Linked DNA regions of Homo sapiens: region 2 is linked to region 1. The links come from fine-mapping of genetic effects on gene expression. A gene starts in region 1. The other region holds a variant in brackets. All regions are shown on one strand. Distances are between the middles of the regions.

Region 1 (8,346 bases):
GCAAATCAAAACCACAATGATACCAGTTTACACATACTAGGATAGCTATAAAAAAAGAAGATGGATAATAACAATGTTTAGGATATTGGAAAATCTGAACCCTCATACATTGCTGGTGTGAAAGTAAAATAGCTTAGGCTCTTTAAAAAATAGTTTGGCAGCTCCTCAAAATATTAAACATAGAGTTACTCATAGGTAGAGAAGTGAGTATTATCCCACCCTAAAAAGGAATGAAGTATTGATGCACTCTATAACATGGCTGAACCTCAAAAACGTCATACTAAGTGAAAGACAGACACAAAAGGGCACATAGTGTATGACTCCATTTATATGAAATTTCCAGAACAGGCAAACCTATAGAGACAGAAAGTAGATAAGTAGTTTTCAGGGCTGAAGAATGATTGCATAATGGATTAGGTCTTTCTTTTTGGGGTGATGAAAATGTTGTAAAATTACATAGGGGCAATGGTTGCCTAATCTTGTCAATATACTAAAAACAATTGAATTGTGCACTTTAAAGGAAGAATTTTATGGCATGTGAATTTGCCACAACTTAAAAACCACCAAAACAAGTTGTAGTTGCCATACTTCATGTGACTACTGCAAATCTTTGAATCCAAAATATGTATGATTTGTATTACCATATTTGCACTATATACATTTAATATTATAGCTAATTATTATATAATAAAAATCCACACAGGCAACTTTAGATAACTTTTAGAAATAATTATTCTTTGTATACTTATGTAGTTATAGCATATAGTATTAGAACTGGATGAGTCTAACCATATGCAAACAACTTTAATCCACTTCTGTAGAAAGAAAAGGGCCTTAGGAGACTAGGATAAATGAAGAGCATTAGCCTTTTGGAGAAGACTGATAAATTTAAACAAATGCTAATAACTTTTAAAAATTAGTGAAAATATATTTATGAATACCTGGAAAACTTGTTGATCCCACTATTTTCACTGAATCTTTGGTCAAGCGAAAAGCTCTTGGTAATCGAACCAAGTGTCCAACTATCAAAAAAAAAGATCAACAATTTGTCTCATTAGATATTCTAAAATATTCAAATATACTATTACAGTATCTTTGGTATTGGTTGAAGGGGAGAGCCATAATTCAATCTCCTCTGACAGTTGATATCACTGTTCCAACTCTATTCCCCCTCAGATGATCTGATAAATTTAATCTACGTACTGCTTCTCCATATTATATCTCACCTCTGATTTTTTCTAAAGCCATTTAGAATAATCTCTTCATTATTAGAAGTTCAAATCTCCCACCATTCAAGACCCAAATCACAAGTCCCTTCTCCTTCAAACCTCGTTTGTCCTTAGCACTTCTTATCTGCCACAGTACATCACCAGCACCTTTTTAATAACACTCATTCTACATTGTACTATAGTTCTTTGTTTTTAATTTCCTTAAGTTTTGGAGGAACAGGTGGTATTCGGTTACATAAATTCTTTAGTAAGGATTTTTGAGATTTTGGTATACCCATCACATAATAAACACTAAACCCAATTTGTAGTCTTTTATCCCTCACCCCCATCCCACCGTTTCTCCCACCCCCGAGTCCCCAAAGACCATTGTATCATTCTCATGCCTTTGCATCCTCATAGCTTAGCTCCCACTTATAAATGAGAACATATAATGTTTGGTTTTGCATTCCTGAGTTACTTCACTTAGAATAATAGTCTCCAATCCCATCCAGGTTGCTGCAAGTGCCATTAATCCATTCCTTTTTATAGTTGAGTAGTATTCCATATATATATTTATGTTTGTGTGTGTGTGTGTGTATATGAGTGTATATATATGTGTATATATGTGTATATATATGTGTGTATATATGTGTGCATATATATGCATATATATGTGTATATATTTGTGTATATATATGCGTATATATGCGTATATATGTGTATATATGTGTATATATATACACACACACATGCACACACACACACACATATATATATACACATATACCATACACCACAGTTTCTTTATCCACTCATTGACTGATGGGCATTTGGGCTGGTTCCATGTTTTTGCAACTGTGAATTGTGCTGCTATCAACGTGTGTGTGCAAGTACCTTTTTCATATAATGACTTATTTTCCTCCGGGTAGACACCAGTAGTTGGACTGCTGGATCCAGTGGTAGTTCTACTTTCAGTTCTTTAGGGAATCTCCACAATTTTCCATAGTGGTTGTACTAGTTTACATTCCCACCAGCAGTGTAGAAGTGTTCCCTTTTCACTGCATCCACACCAACATCTATTTTTTTTTTTATTTTTTGATTATGGCCATTCTTGCGAGAGTAAGGTGATATCACATTGTGGTTTTGATTTGCATTTCTCTGATAACTAGTGATGTTGAGCATTTTTTCATATGTTTGTTGGCCATTTGTATATCTTCTTTTGAGAACTGCCTATTCATGTCCTTAGCCCACTTTTTGATGGGACTGTTGGGGTTTTTTTTCATGCTAATTTGTTTGAGTTCCTTGTAGATTCTAGATATAGATTCCAGATATTAGTCCTTTGCCAGATGTATATATTGTGAAGGTTTTCTCCCATTCTGTGGGTTGTCTGTTTACTCTGCTGACTGTTCCGTTTGCTGTGCAAAAGCTCTTTAGTTTAATTAAGTCCGACATATTTGTCCTTGTTTTTGTTGCATTTGCTTTTGGGTTCTTGGACATGAAATCTTTGCCTAAATGGTGCTGGGATAATTGGAAAGCCACATGCAGAAGAATGAAACTGGATCCTCATCTCTCACCTTACATAAAAATCAACTCAAGATGAATTAAGGACTTAAATCTAGGACCTGAAACTATAAAAATTCTAGAAGATAATATCAGAAAAACCCTTGTAGACATCGGCTTATACTATAGTTCTTGATACACACATACCATTTTCCTTATTAGATTATAAGCTCCATTGATAGTGGGATCAATGTTTATGTTAACTTATCAAGAATCAGTATCAAACACTATACCTTGCACATTGTAAATATTAAATAATAATTGTGAAACATATTCTGATAGTCTTCATTGTTAAATGAGCAAATGTGATGGGCATAATAGTGTGAGGGGCAGTATAAAAATGCAATAAAGCATTATACCCAAATAGCCTTTAGCAGACAGGAATAGCAAAGTGCAAAGAAAAGGATGTGGTATCAAAGCCAGAGGACTTGAGTTTAAATCCTAATTCTGCCACTTACTGGTTTTAGGAAAATCACTTTAAACTCTAGGAGCTTCAGTTTTCTTATATGTAAAATGGGACTAATAATAATTCCATCCTTACAGTTACTGTAGAAAATGAGAATACTGTATAAATTGTAAAATGCTATATAAGAGGCCTTCACTATTCATCACTTACAAGATACTAACTGCTTATTCTATTTCTTATATCTCATAGGTCTAATCTTATTATTTCATCAAAAGATCACCAGGTAAAAATTTAAAATAAAAACCCTTTCACACCTAATACACGACCACGACCCATATCCAAGAAGCATCTTTCTCCTACATGGCAATTGATGGCTATCGGCTATTCATATACTTATAGAAGAATAATCTTTGGATTCCTGATGCCTGGACTTTGATTTTTAAATCTCTATTCACTCCATTTGTTTCCTTTCTCCTCCCCTATCCCCTACCTACCTCCACAAACCTTTTACATTTATATTCTTGGAGGACTTCTTTTTTTCATTATTCCTTATTTGAACAACTTTTTTCATTTGAAGCAAATCTCTGTGATTTTATCAATTTTGGGTCTAGAATTTTGAGTCTAGAATGCAGCCAAAACCTTTCTAGTTAAATAACAGTTCAATTAAACTTTCACATCCTTCGTCAGTGTTTGTTCATCAGTATCTTACATGTATTTTTAAAACAGTATAGAAAAGTACTTCAATTCTTTAGAGGTCAAAACTTTAAAATCGCATTATTTCCTGTATTTCACAGCTAAAACCAATAGATGGCGCTCCACCATCACGGATAATTTGAAAGCAGCAGGTTGCCTATTTGAAAGACACTGATCTCATCATTACAGAGTTCACACACTGAAATGCAAACCTGGCAGATGACCCATGGACTGAATTGGGGAGTTTATCAACAAAGCAATTTAATTGTAAAACTTCAACTGTGGGTGACGTAGTGATCCATCTATACCTTAATTTCCTGTCATTCACTCCTCTATGCAAATGCAGAGTGACTTTGTACGACTTCCATAAAAAATAAGCCTTTCTTGTCACGTATTAGTGAGCAAGGTGTCTCTATATAAAACGGATGCACGTGACACAAGAAAAGGCAATTCGAAGAGTGGGGGAAGCTGCGGTTGTCCCTGCGGAGCCGGCAGGGCGGCGCGGACCCTCACCTGATGAGGGCACCCGCACCAGGAAGGCGGAGATAAAGAGGAGGATGGCGGCCCGAGAGAGCAGGGAGCCGGCGGCCCGGGTCCGCCGCCTGCCCCGCCGCGCTGGGCCAAGGGCGAAGGCCTCCATCCACACGCCGCCGTCGCCTGCCCACCGTCCGCGCGGAAGGTCGTTAGGCAACGCGCGCCCACCTGCAGCCGGAAGTTGGCGGGCGGAGGACCGGAACAACGGACCTGATGGACGTGCTCCCACTTCCGCCGGGGTGGTAGACTAGGGGTCAGCCTGTGTCTCCACATAGCTGGTGGGGCCTACACGCGCCAACTGTGCTGTGCAGCCCCCGGGCCTTCAGGACAACACAGCCACGCAGGGCATCCTCAAGAACATCAGTGATTTGTCCAAGATCCTAGAGCTGAGAGAGAATCGTTGGGCCCCAAATCCCGTGCTTTTACCTTTGCATAGCGTTTATGATCGAAAAGCCCTTTTTATGAGCCAGGTGGTAGATGTGGGGCCCAGTTTCGAACAACAGATAGTGAGAATGCATGAGTTAAGACGTGTAAAGCCCTCAGTGGACTGCTTTGATCTAGTAATGTCAGCAGATAGTATTTTATGGATGTGTGGAACTTAATTGGGAGATAAATGCAATACACACTTAGTGGGAATTAAAGGTAAGTAAGGCCTTTAGCCTCAGAAAGAAGCTTGATGGAAGGACAGAGGAAATAACCATAGATGAAATTTACTTTCTAAAATAGACCGGAAGATCATCTTATAGTGTCACCTAAATTCAGCAAAACATACAAAACCATCTATCCTGTGTGGGAGACCAGAATATACCTTCTCAAATATGAAGGATTGCTGCCCTGAAGACAAGAACCAGCAGATGCAGGAGAGCTGTCCACCTGCCCTCTTTTTACCCAGAAGCAAGACATAGATTAGAAAGAGAAAAGGTATCCTGCCCCACTCCTTTACCAGGGAGAACAAAGGTTAACCACTGAAGACAGCGTCAGACCCTCATTAGCCTTGAAATGATATCAGAGGAATTAATATTAGCTTTTTTTAAACCATCTTTTGTCTGCTATTTGTTTGCTTAGCCCAAGTTACTGCCTGTAGAGACTCAGAGTCCTTTTCCTTTGTCACATCTCTAAAAATTTCCTAGTCTTTGTTGAAGATGCTATACAAGCTGGAATTCAAAGACGCTTCTTTGAGAACTACTCATTCTCTGGGTGTTCCTCATATATAAATGAAATATATTAATAAACATCTGTTTTTCTCTTGTTAATCTGTCTCTTGTAAAGGATCCATTCTAAGTACAAAGTTATGGGGGTTATTATTTTCCCATACACAGCCTAAGAGGCCATTTATAGCTAGAACTTGTTTTAGAGAAATTGAAAGAGACTCATGCCTCTACTTTTCTGCTGCTGGAAGGATTTACTTAATGGGAGCAGAGCTGTGATAGAAATAAATCTTAAGCAGTTGGTTTAAATACATTGAAGAATGAAGTTTGAGCAACTAAATGTAGAATGCCTAATTACAAGTGAGTTATCACTTTTGATATGAAGAAATGAGTGATCATGGGTGGACTAAAAACTGTCACTTGATATGCTATGATCTGGATGAAGGATTTAAAACTGACAGCCTAACCACCTAATTTAATCTCACTTGTTTAATAGTATATCTCAAAATTGTAAAGACTTTCAATGGGGCATAGGCATTCTGATTGTACCAAACATATCACCCTTGACAGTTGGCCTGATTAACGATTATGTGCCTGACTCTTCAAAGCTAGAATCTTGCCTGTTTTAACATTTTTGCTGCAGTAAGGATGATGTGAACTTTTACCCCAAATTCTAATATTTGCATTTCCTCTTATAGTAGTTCATGCAAGATGAAATTATCCAGGTGAAAGAGCTTTTAAGTGAACCAATACATTAGTGATTTAAATGATATTTTGTGTGTAGACAGTTAACTGATACCCATTGTGGTTTCCTAAAATGAACTTAAAACTCTTACTGTTCTTACTCTGGACACCATGGCAAATTTAAGGGAAGTAAAGATAATTTAGGGCATGTAAAGATGTACCTGTACTTTCATTATAATTTTCTGTTTTTCTTAAAAATTAGATATACTAGGGCTGGGCACAGTGGCTCACACCTGTAATCCCAGCACTTTGGGAGGCCGAGGCGGGCAGATCACAAGGTCAGGAGATCGAGACCATCCTGGCTAACACAGTGAAACCCCATCTCTACTAAAAATACAAAAAATTAGCCGGGCATGGTGGCGGGCGCCTGCAGTCCCAGCTGCTTGGGAGGCTGAGGCAGGAGAATGGCGTGAACCTGGGAGGCGGAGCTTGCAGTGAGCCAAGATCACACCACTGCACTCCAGCCTAGGCGACAGAGTGAGACTCCACCAAAAAAAAAAAATTAGATGTACCAATTTAACTTTAGTAATGTTTATATTTTGTAGTGCATTTAGATTTACATTTAATTAGATAGCAAGTGTTATATATATAAATACTTAATTGTAGTCACATATATACTTTTGAGAAATGTATTGTCACTGAATTAACTGCTTTATTTACACTCCTTAAATATATTTTATACCCATAAAATACCAACTTATGGAAAAATTTTAAAATAAGTAAATGAACACAGCTTTCCTGAGCACTGGGGAGAAAAGTATCATGGAAATATTAGTACCAAGGCTATTTTTGTTTTTCTTAAGAATTGTGATGTACATAATAAATGGTTCAATGTGTTAAGAATTCTAGCCGTTGCCAGGCAACAAGGGCTCTGCTTTATTCTCCTTATGTCATGTTCCTTCATTGCCCTATTCTTCCTTTGGTGGAGGAAAATATTTGCCTTAAAAAGAAAAACAAAATTATCTGCCAACATTTAGAAAGCTGTGTCAATTTTATACTAGTTTAACACAGATCTTTAGTTATTGGCAATAGAGTTTATATAGTTAAATATAAAGGAATTATCAGAAATACTTTATAGTTATCAAAAATTCTAAAGAAAAAGGCCATGGATGTAGAAATTCAGGACACACCTGGAAAGATAAGTATCTCTAAAAGGTCCATCCTTTCAGGAACTGTTGAGAATATAGATTACCCACACTATTGTGATCTCTTAAGAAAAATGAACATGCCTTTTGTGAAAGGTCTTGAGAACAGACATAACTATGGCAGGTTTGAAAAGAAATGCAACCCTGCTTTTCTTAAATTTCACCCTTATCCCCCTTCAGTTTTGCCAGACTATCATTTACATGATCCTTATCCCCCACCATATGGGCCACATTATCCATTATTTCCACTTCGGGATGATGTGACCTTAGGTGATTCCTGTTCAGGGTTTATGAGTCCTGGTGGTGATGCTGATTTAAATCCTGGCATTGGCAGAACCATACCAACCCTAGTGGATTTTAGTGATGTGAAACCTCAACATCGAGTTCCCAGACCAGACACAGGATTTCAAACAACAATAAAAAGGCAAAAAATTCTATCAGAAGAACTGCAACAGAACAGGAGATGGAATTCCAGGGAAGTACCAGACATTTCTATCAGAGCAAGACTTGGAGGTAAATGAAGTGACATGAACTTTCTATTTTTTAAATGCTCAAGGGAAGAGAGTATGGACATAAGATTCAATATTTAGGCAGTTAAATTAACAAAATTACAATGATCTGAAAAAGGTTTTATTTTTAAATTACAGATTATAAGAAACAAAGGAATGATAAACCTTATAAACTTATTTGTAAAAGAAAATTTATTCTTTAAGAAAAGAACATTCATTAGTGATTAACACAAAGTATATAACATTATTTATTCTAGATATATGGATAAGCTTGTTTTACCACAGGGGAATTTATGTATCACTTTGATAATTGTATAGAAATCCTCCTTATCTGTCTCTCTCCTTTGAAAGAATGAATTCACTGATATTATGAAAGAGTTAGTTTTAAGGATTGAAATA
Region 2 (8,346 bases), 150 kb before region 1:
ATAAACAATCCAAAAGGGAAATTAGGAAAATAGTTCCATTTAAAATACAATCAAATAATATTTAGGCATAAACTCAACCAAGGTGGTGGAATAATGTATACTATAAATTACCAAAAATTGTTGAAAAAAATTCAAGAAGACACAAATAAATAGAAAGACATATCATGTTCATGGGTTGGAACACAATATTAAAGTGTTAACACCACACAAAGCTATTGATTCAATGCAATCTCTATCAAAATCCCAATAACATTTTTTTTTGTGAAAAACAAAAATCTTTCTCAAGAGACTCCAAATAGCCAAAATATTGAAAAAGAAAAACAAAGTTGAAAGTCTCACATTTCCTGATTTTAAAACTTACTACAAAGCTGCAATAATCAAAACAGTGTGGTGCTGCCAAAAAGACAGACATACAGACTAATGGAACAGAATAGAAAGCCCAGTAATAAATCCTTGCATACAGGGACAAATGATTTTCACAAAGGATGCCAAGATCATTCAATGGGGAAAGAACAATTTTTTTCACCCAATGGTATTGGGAAAACTGGATATACACAGACAACTAAATGAAGTTGGATTCTTAGACCATATACAAAAATTAACTCAAAATGAATCAAGGACTTAAGAGCTAAAACTGTAGAACATTTAGAAGATGACACTGGGGAAAAGCTTCAGGATACTGCATTTTACAATGATTTCTCTTTTTTTGCATATTTTTGTATAATACACAACCTTTTAAACGTTACTGCTAATATCTGAATTTTTGTGTTTCTGCTTCAGTCCCTCTGAGTCATTGGTCTTCTTTTTGTTCCCGCTTGTATTTTTCACATTGTGTGTTTCATAGTAGTGCACACAAATTTTTTTGGATTGTTGCTGCTGTACTGCTCACTTCCATTCCTTAGATGTAAGCATCCTGCAAGTTTTACTTGAATATTCCTCTTCCCTCTGTGTTCTGCTTATTTCCTTTTTTGGTAAATGCTGTGTAGCATCTGCATCTTCTTCAGATATTTTTCTCTGCTCTTCATGTTTTTCAAATATCTTTTCACTTAGTACCTTGGATATTCTGACTCCTGAAAACTTTTTAGCTTTAGCTTTGTCTAAAAACTTCTGATATTTAGCAATATTCTCATCTAGAGCTTTAATAATGGCTTTGGTGTGATTTTTCCATATGTTCTTCCTCAGATTCCTAGTAAGACTCTTCATCATCTCTTGCTTCTGCTCCCCTTCTTCAATAGAAAAGCTCTCAAGCTCTTTCTCCAGATATGACATATCCACAGGAGCGAGGTCATCCCCAGAAGACTGAGGCACCACACTGAGTTTGCCAAAGTTTTGCTGAACCCATGCACAAGAATTGGTTGCATCTCTGAGTTAGCATCCAGTGACTATTCTCTTCTTTTTCTTTTTCAATCACAGATTCTGTCACTTCACCTACAGTTTTGGTATTCATTCTGTCACTTCCTCTTCTGGATTGTTCTGGGTTGCTTCTGTGGCAACTTCCACGGATTAGGAGGGTGAAAGCTGGGGGGCCACAGGTGACTCTCCATTAAGCAGCTTGACAAAGAAAGGAATCCAGCCCTCTCAGCCAGTCATTGAGGACTATCCACCCACAGTCAGTAAGTCAGTAAGTTACTCCACCCTTTAGTAACTTCCCAGTCCAGAAAGTTAGCTTCTCAATAAAGTCCTCAGCATTCTCCCAAGAATTAATCTTTTATGTCTTGCTGATATATTCTGGCTTTACTTGTTCAAGTACAACATCAATGCAGTCTTCAGGGGTCTTAATTTTTCCTACTTAACTCCTTTTAGCACAATGTCTGTCTTCAAGTCCTCAGAAGAGTATACCAAACCTGAACAGTCAATGAAGCATAACCAACATATCAAGGTAATGTATTTCCAGATATTTCATCTACAATGGGGACCACATTGCAAACTTTCTTGGAACACTATGTTTATATCACAGACCTCTTGCCAACATTTAGATAGCCAATGAACCCAACACTCATCTGTTTCTTGTCAGTGTACAACTTTCCAAACTGCCACAGAAGCTGAATAAATGCTCCTTTGCGAAAGGGGTCAGTAAGACTTGCATGGAAAGCAAGTGTTGGCTAATCCAAGGAGAGGACAGCAACCCATCATTTTGTTGCCCAGGTTGCAACAAGGTCACATTTGTTATGTACAAACATAACGTGTTCCCAGGGTTTATTCTTTTTCAAGTATGGCTCAAGGCTCAATGTGACGGGAACGGGTACCCATTGGATCTCTAGCCAGCAACCAGAACTACAACATCTGGTGAATCTATAACCCTGGAGAGCTCATCCTATATTCCTTTGGACTGTCCCTTTTTACATGTCTCTTCTTGTGCTTCATTTATCCCACCAGTGTCTTCAGTTACTGACTCATGATCTTTTCTAGAAACTGGTCTAGCTCTCAGTGGACATTTCAGCATTTTCTAGAAAAGACTGCATATCACTTGCAAATAAATTTGGTTGCTTCCTTTGTGACATAGGGCCAAATGTAGTTTTAAAACTTTCAGTATCAGGAACGTGCACCTTTGAGTTGAGGCTGGATTCAATCTTAGAGAAGAGACATTGGTAACTTGCTTTGTTTCATGACAACTGTGTATGAATCCTTCATAACTGTATCCACTTCCTCTTGAAGTTTTTGTAATCATGACTGCTTAATCACATGTGCATTTTCAAACTATTTGATATTTGGCTGCACTTTTGCCACTGTGCCAGAAGCCACCTTTGATTGATATTCCAGGGGCTTAATGATCTTACCACAGCTGTTCTTGTATTTCTTTTGCCTGTACATATTCAGGCCTGAGACTGTGGCCTGGTCCCTCATGTTTTGACCTCCTGCTTCCTGCTCTCAGTCTGGGTTTGTGCTGGCATCGAAGAGGTTGATGATGCACTGTCCTTTTGTACTTGGGCTTTACCATCTTGGCGATGAGATGGGAACTGAAGTGCTAAGTCCAGCTTATGTTGGGTAAATGAATTCAGAACTTCCCAGGCCTGGCTGAAGTGACCTGTTTTATTACAGCTTCAATCTCAGTAGTTGTTATTGGTCTCCTCAGTTGTTAGATTTTTTCATAGTTCAATCTTGGTAGGCTGTATCTGTCTGGGAATGTCTTCTAGGTTTTCCAATTTATTGGCATATAGTTGCTCCTAGAAGCCTCTAATGATCCTTTGAATTTCCATGGCAGCAGACGCAATGTCTACTGTTTTATCTGATTTTATTTTCATTTATTTTATCTTCTTTTTTTCTTAGTCTGGCTAAAGGTTTGTTGATTTTGTTTATCTTTTTTAAAAATAACTTTTCATTTCATTGATTTTTGTATTTTTTTTATTTCATTTATTTCTGCTCTGATCTTTATTCCTTCTACTAATTTGGGGTTTGGTTTGCCCTTGTTTTTCTAGTTCTTTAAGATGTATCAATAGGTTGCTAATTTGAAGTTTTTCTGCTTTTGTTGATGTAGGTGCCTATTGCAATAAACTTCCCTGTACTGCTTTTGCTGTATCCCACAGGTTTAGGTACATCAGGTTTCCATTTTCATTTGTTTCAAGACATTTTAAAATTTCCTTCTTAATTTCTTCATTGAGCCACTGGTCATTCAGGAGCATATTGTTTAATTTCCAGGTGTTCATATAGTTTCAAAATTCCTCTTGTTATTCATTTCTAGTTTTATTCCATTGTGGTCAGAGAAGATACTTGATATAATTTCAATTTTTTGACTTTTTAAAGATTTGATTTGTGGCCTAACATATGGCCTATCTTTGAGGATTATCCATGAGCTGAG[G/A]AGAAGAATGTGTATTCTGCAACTGTGGGATGAAATGTTCTGTGAATATGGCTATTAGGTTCATTTGTTGTATAGTAGAGATTAAGCCTGATATTTCTTTGTTGATTTTCTGTCTGGATAATTTGTCCAATGCTGCACTGAAAGTAGGGTGTTAAAGTCTCCAGCTATTATTGTATAGGGGTCTCTCTCTTTAGCTCTAATAATATGTGCTTTATATATCTGGATGCTCCTGTGTTAGATTCATATATATTAAGAATTATTATATCCTCTTGCTGAATTGATTTCTTTATTCAATGACCTTGTCTGTTTTTATGCTTTTTGTCTTGAAATCTATTTTTTTTTTCCTGATATAAGTATAGCTACTCCTGCTCTTTTCTGGTTTTGCATGGAACTTTTTTTAACTCTTTATTTTCAGCCTATGTGTGTGTCCGTCTGGGTGTAGTGTGTTTCATGTAGGCAACAGATTGTTGGGTCTTGTGTTTTTATCCATTCAGCTCTCTTTGTCTCTTTACTGGAGAGTTTAGTGCATTTATATTCCATGTTATTACTCATAAGGAATTACTTTTGCCATTTTGTCACTTGTTTTCTGGTTGTTTTGTGGTCTTTTCCTTCTTTCTTTTCTTCCTGTATTCCTTTTAGTGAAGGTGATTTTCTCTGGTGGTATATGTACATATCCGTTGTGTTTTTTGATTTGTGGTTACCATAGCCTTGCAAATAATATCACGTAACCTGTTATTTTAAACTGACAACAACTTAATGCTGATTGCATAAACAAACAAGCAAAGAGAAAACTAGTAAAAAACTCTACAGTTTAACTTCATCCCCCCCTTTTTAGCTTTTTGTTGTTTCTATTTATATCTTAGTATACAGTGTTGTGAAAAGTTGTTGTAGTTATTATTTTTATAGGTTCATCTTTCAGTCTTTCTACTCGAGATATGAGTGTTTATACACCACTATTGCAGTATTATAATATTCTGTGTTTTTTTGTGTATTTACTTCAGATGATTTCTTATTGTTCATTAACATCCCTTTCCTTCAGATTGAAGAACTCTCCTTAGCATTTCTTATAGGCAAGGTCTGGTGGTGATGAAATCCCTCAGCTTTTGTTTTTCTGGGGAAGTCTTTATTTCTTCTCCATGTTTGAAGAATATTTTTGCCAGATATACTATTCTAGGATACAAATTTTTTCTTTTTTTTCCTTCAGCAATTTAAATATGTCATACCACTCTCTCCTGGCCTATAAGGTTTCCACTGAGAAGTCTGCTCACAAATGTACTGGAGCTCCATTGTATGTTGTTTCTTTTCTTTTGCTGCTTTTAGGATCCATTCTTTATCCTTGACCTTTGGGAGGTTGACTATTAAATGTCTTGAGGTAGTCTCACCTGGGTTAAAGTTGCTTGGTGTTCTATACCTTTCTTGTCCTTGAATACTGATACCTTTTTCTAGGTTTGGAAACTTCTCTGTTACCATCCCTTTGAATAACCTTTGTACCCCAACCTCTCACTCTCCCTTCTCCTTAAGGCCAATAACTCTTAGATTTGCCCTTTAGAGGCTATTTTCTAGATCTTCTAGACATGCTTCATCTTTTTGTCTTTTGTCTTTTCTGACTGTGTATTTCCAAATAGCCTACCTTGAAGCTCACTAATTCTTTATTTTGCCTGATAAATTCTGCTGTTAAGAGTCTCTGATGCATTCTTCAATATATCAATTGCATTTTTCAGCTCCAGAACTTCTGCTTGATGCTTTTTAATTATTTCAATTTCTTTGTTAAATTTATCTGACAGGATTCTGAATTCCTTCTCTGTGTTATCTTGAATTCTGTTAAGCTTCCTCAAAATAGCTATTATGAATTCTCCATCTGAAAGGTTACACATCTGTTTCCCAAGATTGATCACCGGTGCCCTATTTAGTTCATTTGATGAGGTCATGTTTTCCTGGATGATCTTGATGCTTGTGGATGTTTGTTGATGTCTTGGCATTGAAGAGTCAGGTATTTATTGTGGTCTTCGCAGTCTGGGCTTTTATGTACCCATCCTCCCTGGGAAGGCCTTCTAGGTATTCAAAGAGACTTCAGTGTTGTGATTGAAGTCTTTGGTCACTGCAGCTATATCTGCATTAGGGGGCTCTCCAAGCCTAGTAACACTGTGGCTCCTGCAGACTTGCAGATGCACTGCCTTGGAGGTTTTGGGTAAGATTCAGAAGAATTCCCTGGATTACCAGGCAGAGACTCTTGTTCTCTTCTCTTATTTTCCTGCAAACAAACAGAGTCTCTCTGTGTGTGCTGAGCTGACTGGAACAAGAGGAGGGGTGAATCAGGCACCCTGTGGCAACCACCACCTGTGACTGCACTGGGTCAGACCTGAAGCCAGCATAGCATTGGGTTTCACCCAAGGCTCATAGTCACCACTGCCTAACTACCGCTTATGTTCACTGAAGACCCAAGGGCTCTACAATAAGCAGGTAGTGAGTCCAGCCAGGCTCATATCCTTCACTTCCTGTTGGTAAGTTTCTTCCAGCCCTAACTGTGTTCAGAGATGCCATCTGGGAACCAAGGACTGGAATCTACCTGGTCCTCTATTCTACAGCAGCAGAACTGGCACCAAAGCTTCAAGACAAAGTCTTTCCCACTCTTCACTCCCCTATTCTCAAGCATAGTAGTCTCTCTCTATGACCATCATTGCCCCAGGCCTGCAGCAAGTATTGCCTGGCTACCACCAATGTTCACTCGAGGCCCAAAGGCCCTTCAGTCAGCTTGTGGTGAATGCTGCCAGTTCTGAGTCTCTCCTTTCAAGGCAGTGGGCTACCCCCTAGCTCAGAGAAGGTCCAGAAATCCTATCCAGGAGCGATGGCCTGGAACTGAAGACTCCAGGAGCCCACTTGTTGCTCTACTCCACAAAGCTGGTATCCAAGCTAATGCTTGATTCTTATGAAGGTGCTTTTTTGTGTGGACAGTTGTTCAATTTGGTGTTCCAGCAGGAGGGATAATCACTGGAGGGTTCTATTTGGCCATCTTACTCTGCCTTCTCCCTGTTTTGATTTCTTTTACGTGATACCAAAAGCACAAGAAATAAAGATTGGGTTCTATAAAAATAAAACCTTTTGTGTATCAAAGGACATTATCAAATATAGTGAAAAGGCAACCCACAATATAGGAGAAAATATTTGCAAATCACATGTCTGATAAGTGGTTAACATTTTTTTTTTGAATTTTAAACTCCTATAATTCAACAAACAACCCAATTAAAAAATGGGAAGAAGACTTGCATAGGTGTTTCTCCAAAGAAGATACACAAATGGTCAATAAGTATATAAACAGATGCTCAACACTACTAACCATTAGGGAAATGCAACTCAAAACCATAATGAGATACCACTTCAAACACAATGAGACGACAAGTATCAAGAAAATGGAAAATAACTAGTGTTGGTGAGGACATGGAGAAATTGTGAGCCTTGTGCATTGCTGATGGGAATGTAAAATGGTATAGTGGCTATGGAAAATCAGTATGGTGGCTCTTCAAGAAATTAAAATAGAATTGCCATATGAATCAGCAATCCCATTTCTGGGTATATGCTCAAAAGAATTGAAAGAAGTGTCTCAAAGAGACATTTGTATGCATTATGGACTTAACGTTTGTGTCCCTCCAAATTGATATATTAAAGCCCTAATCTCCAATGAGGCAATGTTGGAGATAAGGCCCCTAAGGAGATAAATTTAAATGAGGTAATAAAGGCAGGGCCCTTATCTGATAAGATTAATCTCCTTATAAGAAAACAGACCAGAAACACTGCTACCTCTTTCTCCATGAATATGCACCAAGGAAAAGCCATGTAAGGACAATACCAGAAGGTGGCTGTCTGAAATCAAGAAGAGAGCCCTCTCCAGAAACTGATCTTGGACTTCTAGCATCCAGAATTGTAAGAAAATAAATTTCTGTTGTTTAAGCCACCCATTCTATGAAATTTTATTATGGCAGCCTAATATAGTATATATCTAAAATAACTGAAAGCAGGATCTTGCAGGTATTTGCTTACCTGTGTTTAATGCAGCATTATTCACAATAGCCAACAGCTGGATGTAGCCCAATGCCCATCAGTGAATAAATGAAAAACAAAATGTGTGTATAGGTACAATAGAATGTTATTCAGCCTTAAAAAGGAAATTCTGACACATGCTATAACATGGATGAATCTTAAAAATATTGTGCTAAGTGAAATAAGCCAGTCATAAAAAGACAAATACTATATGATTCCACTTATATGAGGTATCTAGAGTAGTCACATTTATAGAGAAAAAATGTAGAATGGTGGTTTTCAGGTGTTGGAGGGAGAAGGGAATGGGGAGTTATTATTTAATGGGTATACAATTTCAGTCTAGAAGTTGAAAAAAATTCTAGAGATGGATGGTGATGATGATTTCACAACAGTGGGACTGAAGTTAATGCCACTGTGTATTTAAATTATACATTTAAATACACTTAAAATGTTAAATTTTATGTTATGTACATTTTACCATAATAAAAAGTGATATATACACATTCATATATTTA

Alleles and levels. Alleles are on the strand shown, and positions count from the first base shown. SD is a standard deviation of normalised expression in the study named.
For the expression in testis of the gene that starts at base 4,559 in region 1, allele A in region 2 goes with a higher level than allele G (small effect, 0.22 SD a copy in GTEx).

Evidence for each region. PIP is the estimated chance that this variant, and not a neighbour inherited with it, causes the effect.
Region 2: its variant is fine-mapped to the expression of ZPBP in testis (GTEx, PIP above 0.99).

Annotation. Positions count from the first base shown.
Region 1 is chr7:50,088,688-50,097,033 of GRCh38, forward strand. It overlaps ZPBP (zona pellucida binding protein), which reads right to left and starts at 4,559. Exons shown (of 8, transcript NM_007009.3): 1 at 4,381-4,559; 2 at 942-1,022. The coding sequence starts at 4,507. SPMIP7 (sperm microtubule inner protein 7) reads left to right here and starts at 7,196. Exons shown (of 9, transcript NM_001161834.3): 1 at 7,196-7,951. The coding sequence starts at 7,399. It overlaps LOC124901630 (a long non-coding RNA gene), which reads left to right and starts at 4,592. Exons shown (of 2, transcript XR_007060321.1): 1 at 4,592-5,043; 2 at 5,128-5,654. RefSeq lists silencers at 4,363-4,412, 4,493-4,652.
Region 2 is chr7:49,941,503-49,949,848 of GRCh38, forward strand. All of the region lies in intron 7 of ZPBP (zona pellucida binding protein), which reads right to left. It also overlaps the pseudogene GNL2P1. Among named protein-coding and RNA genes, the nearest start is that of ZPBP, 150 kb to the right of the region's middle. The variant G/A (reference allele first, on the strand shown) is at 3,797.